2 separate regions of the Homo sapiens genome follow, and region 1 is linked to region 2. A link means that fine-mapping ties the variant in region 2 to the expression of a gene that starts in the linked region. Tissue or cell type: whole blood. Region 2 holds a variant in brackets; the other region holds the start of a gene. All regions are shown on one strand. Distances are from middle to middle.

Region 1 (2,500 bases), 92 kb after region 2:
ACAAAAAATTAGCCGGGCGTAGTGGCGGGCGCCTGTAGTCCCAGCTACTTGGGAGGCTGAGGCAGGAGAATGGCGTGAACCCGGGAGGCGGAGCTTGCAGTGAGCCGAGATCCCGCCACTGCACTCCAGCCTGGGCGACAGAGCGAGACTCCGTCTCAAAAAAAAAAAAAAAAAAAAAAAAATCAAAAAAATTAGCTGGGCATGGCAGCGCGAGCCTGTAGTCCCAACTACTCGGAAGGCTGAGGTGGGAGGATCCCTTGAGATGGGGAAATCAAGGCTGCAGTGAGCCATGATAGTTCCACTGCACTCCAGCCTGGGTGACAGAAGGAGAACCTGTCTCAAAAACAAACAAAATAAAACAAACAGGCTGGGCACGGTGGCTCACGCCTGTAATCCTAGCACTTTGGGAAGCTGAGGCAGGCAGATCACCTGAGGTCAGGAGTTTGAGACCAGCCTGGCCAACATGGTGAAACCCCGTTTCTACTAAAAATACAAAAATTAGCAGGGCATGGCGGCGGACAGCTGTAATCCCAGCTACTCGGGAGGCTGAGGCAGGAGAATCGCTTGAACCCGGGAGGCGGAGGTTGCAGTGAGCCGAGATCGCGCCCCTGCACTCCAACCTGGTGACAGAGCGAGACTCCGTCGAAAGAAGGAAAGGAAAGGGAAAGGGAAAGGAAAGGGAAAGGGAAAGGAAAGGAAGAGAGAGAGAGAGAGAAAGAAAAGAAAAGAAAAAAGAAAAGAAAGAAAGAAAGAAAGAAAGAAAGAAAGAAAGAAAGAAAGAAAGAAAACAAACAAAAACAAATAGGGATTAATAAATAGGCAGAAGCAGGCATAATCCGGGGCAGGGGAAGCCTCGGGGCCACGCCCGAGAGGCATTTGTATTTTACTTTCAGCAGTTCAGAGCCCATGATAGCCAGGTTACCCACTTGTGGACTTCCTTGACCACTTAATTGAGTCAATCTAACCCTCACCTTCTCTCTCCTCTCACTCCATTTAGCGGGTCACGTAGCCACTAGGGCTTCCTTAGCCTATCAGGCCACCTGGGGACTGAGTCATTCAGTCAGTCACCTATCTGGTGGTCACATCTGCCCCTGGGCTCATCCTTTTACTGGGCCACCTCGGCCCATCGGGACCTGTCAGTCCTTGACCTCCCTCAGGCCCCTAGGCTGGCCAGGTCGCCTCAGTGCCACGCCTCCCTGGCCCGCGATTCAGCCTGCACGTTACGCTTTGTTCCCAGAAGCAGGTTTTCGAAACGCGGTTCCCTCTCGGCTCCAGCTGTTTTCCTGCCAGCGCTGGGAGACCCGGCAGCCGCAGCGCCCCCAGCGGCGCGCAGCGGCCCAGGAAGAGAGTGCCTACCGCCGGCGCCTCTTCAGCCTCCTCCTGGAACGCGGGAGCGGGCGCGACCAGCGCCCACCCTGATCGTCGCGACGGTGCTCCTGATTGGCTGCGCTGTGTGACGTAACGGGAGGGCCCCGGCGGCCGCCGGGAGCCGGGGCCCAGCGCGTGCGCAGACGGAGCGCGCTGAGCGGAGGGGGAGGTGGCTGCCGCTTCTCCCGCGTCCGCCATTTTGTTGCTGTGGCTATTGGGAACAAGCTGGGCAAAAGCACCCCGGAGGCGCGACGCTCCTTCGAGTTCGGTGCCTCGTGTGACGGCGGGGGTCGGTGAAGACCCGTCGAGCTGCGGCGCCGGCGCGTTCCAGGCCGGGAGTCACTGGAGGCACCCCTGGGACGCCGAGCAGCCCGAGAACCCCGGGGTGGCCTCCGCTGCGGCTCGGGTTTGCCTGCCCCGACCCCCCGGCTCTGCCGTGCATTCCCGGGCGGCTCTCTCCGTGTGGCGGCCCCGGAGCAGGCGGGCGGCGTCGGAGGATGCTGCGGGCCCGGAGCCGAGAGGAAAGTGCTGGCCCAGCCCTCTGAGCGCTCCTCGAGGTGTGCGAGAGGCCCTTCCTCGGCCCCAAAGCCGTCTGCCGGGCTAAGGCGTGCAGAGCAGGCGAGGACAGCCGCCGCCCCTACCGCCGCAGAGTCCCCGGTCCAACACCATGTCCTCCGCCAGGTTCGACTCCTCGGACCGCTCCGCCTGGTATATGGGGCCGGTGTCTCGCCAGGAGGCGCAGACCCGGCTCCAGGGCCAGCGCCACGGTATGTTCCTCGTCCGCGATTCTTCCACCTGCCCTGGGGACTATGTGCTGTCGGTGTCCGAGAACTCGCGGGTCTCCCACTACATCATCAACTCGCTGCCCAACCGCCGTTTTAAGATCGGGGACCAGGAATTTGACCATTTGCCGGCCCTGCTGGAGTTTTACAAGATCCACTACCTGGACACCACCACCCTCATCGAGCCTGCGCCCAGGTACGCGAGAGCCCTCCCCGACCGCGGAGGAAGGTCGAGAACCGGGTCTGTCGAAGAGTGCTTGTATAGGGGGGTGGGGCGCGCTTGAACCCATATTCCCCGCATTCTGAACCAAATTATTTTCCAGAAGGCCTTCCTAACAGAAAGCTAGTGT
Region 2 (2,500 bases):
AAGAAAAAGTTGTATGATTACATTCTTTGTTTAAAGAACAGGAAAGTATGAAATACATGTTTGTAACATTTCTATCAAAATTAACAAAATCTAAAGAAAGTCTGTGCCCTTAAAGATAAAAGCTTCAGCTACCTAGAAGATTCTCTTCTAGCTGGGCACAGTGGCTCACACCTATAATCCCAGCACTCTGGGAGGTCGAGGCAGAAGGATCACTTGAGGCCCGGAGTTCAAGACCAGCCTGGGCAACATGGCGAAACCTTGTCTCTACAAAAAATACAAAACAAATTAGCTGGCATGATGGTGCACGCCTATAGTCTCAGCTACTTGGGAGTCTTAGGAGGGAGGCTGGCTTGAGGTGGACGGCAGAGGTTGCAGTGAGCCAAGATTGCACCACTGCACTCCAGCCTGGATGACAGAGCAAGACTGCCTCAAAAAAAGAAAAGAAAATGATCTTCTATGAATGACTTCAATCCCCAACAAAGAGCAAGAAAAATGAGCTGCCTCTGCCTTTTTCTGCCGCCTACCTTAAAGGACTTTCTGAAAAGCTGAAAGGGATAGTGCTGCTCATGTCTCTGCAGCCCCTGCCCTTCATTAGAAAAAAGAAAAAAAAAAAAAGAAAAGTTTAATAAGATAAGACTCGAGATCCTAAAGAGTAGTGAAAGACCTAAGCATGTCTTAGGTCTGCTGTCAACAGGATGAAATAGATAAATATCAACAAACAATTCAATCACATTTCACGTTTTTAAAATCTTTTCATCACTTTGGGACTCTATTCAATCTAATAGAAATGCATACCAAATCAACCAACACATGCTTACCTCATCCCTAAGTGAAGGATCCCTATAGGCCACATCAGACAGCAGAGTTACCAAGCAGAAGCTGAAGCTCTCTGCAACCGGGAGGGCACCTGGAAGATGTAAAAACATAAATCAGATAACCAGGAACCAGATACTGGGTCACACCTCTGGCCATCCAATTCAATATGTTCCCTCTCACCATGACCTGCCAAGGGACCAGTTTACAGCAGCTGCCCTCCTTGAGACGAGTCTCAAAAGAACAGCTATGGGCCCAATGAGTTTGCTGAGAAACACCCTTACCTTTCCTTTAAGTAAATGTTTTGGTTCAATAAACTTAAATGTTTCCTGAGCCAATAGCTAGTGTGAGATAACAAAGCCTCTCAACATGACAGATTCAATTTTTTATTCCCTAAGTAAATGTGATAAATCACACACACACACACACACACACACACACACACACACACACACACACAAAACACTCGGCTGGGCGAAGTGGCTCAAGTCTGTAATCCCAGCACTTTTGGGGGGCCAAGGCAGACGGATCACCTGAGGTCGAGTTCAAGACCAGCCTGGCCAACATGGTGAAACCCCGTCTCTACTAAAAATACAAAAATTAGCTGGGTGTGGTGG[C/T]GCACACCTGTAATCCCAGCCACTTGGGAGGCTGAGACAGGAGAATAGCTCGAAGCCAGGAAGTGGAGGTTCCAGTGAGCCGAGATCGCACCACTGTACTCCAGCCTGGGTGACAGAATGAGACGCCATCTCAAAAAAAAAAAAAAAAATCAATTTTGAATATTGAATGTTGAATCAAGGAAAAAAGAGTATCCACTATTTAATAGCTATATTCATAGTACATGACAGAAGACTTACATTTCTACTCCAGCACTTAAAATTTTAAAGTGCAGCTCTAGGCTGTTCTCAAACTTGAATGTGCCCATGCCCGGCCTAAAATTTGACCTTTTAGTAATGATGCTCTATTTAATTTGTAGTCCATCAAATTGCAGGACAGACTGGGTGCAGTGGCTCATGCCTATAGTCCTAGCACTTTAGGAGGCCAAAGCAGGCAGATCACTTGAGGCCAGGAGTTCAAGACCAGCCCAGCCAACATGGCAAAATACTATCTCTACCGAAAATACAAAAATTAGCCAGGCATGGTGATGCATGCCTGTAATCCCAGGTACTTGGGAGGCTGAGGCACGAGAATTGCTTGAACCCAGGAGGTGGAGGTTGCAGTGAACCGAGGTCAGGCCACTGCACTACAGCTTGGAGTGCAGACAGAGTGAGACTGTCTCAAAAAAACAAAAAACAAACAAAATCCTAACAAATTGCAGGTACATGCATAATTTGGGATCTGTCAGTTTTAGGCATGTTACCAGAAATGATGAAAACCCAAAGGTTAAGAGGAATACTGGCACAAACAGAATGTTTTTTAATTTTTATTTCAGGTTCAGGGGTACATACGCAGTTTTGTTATACAGGTAAACTGCATGTTACGGGGGTTTGGTGTACAGATTATTTCATCATCCCCGTAATAAGCATAGTACCCAGAAAGTAGTTTTCCCATCCTCACCTTCCTCCTATTCTCCACTCTTAAGTAGGCCCCAGTGTCTGCTGTTCCCTTCTGTGTTCATATGTACTCGAAGTTTAGCTCCCACTTACAAGTGAGAACATGCAGCGTTTGGTTTCCTGTTGCTGTGCTAATT

What was found. PIP is the estimated chance that this variant, and not a neighbour inherited with it, causes the effect. A credible set is the group of variants that fine-mapping cannot tell apart.
Region 1: it holds the start of CRKL, and the variant in region 2 is the best candidate, but not a certain one, in a credible set for the expression of CRKL in whole blood (TOPMed, PIP 0.81).

The regions. Positions count from the first base shown.
Region 1 is chr22:20,915,900-20,918,399 of GRCh38, forward strand. It overlaps CRKL (CRK like proto-oncogene, adaptor protein), which reads left to right and starts at 1,508. Exons shown (of 3, transcript NM_005207.4): 1 at 1,508-2,346. The coding sequence starts at 2,036. RefSeq lists a silencer at 1,425-1,874 and an enhancer at 2,165-2,224.
Region 2 is chr22:20,823,508-20,826,007 of GRCh38, forward strand. It overlaps PI4KA (phosphatidylinositol 4-kinase alpha), which reads right to left. Exons shown (of 55, transcript NM_058004.4): 4 at 819-907. Among named protein-coding and RNA genes, the nearest start is that of PI4KA, 34 kb to the right of the region's middle. The variant C/T (reference allele first, on the strand shown) is at 1,431.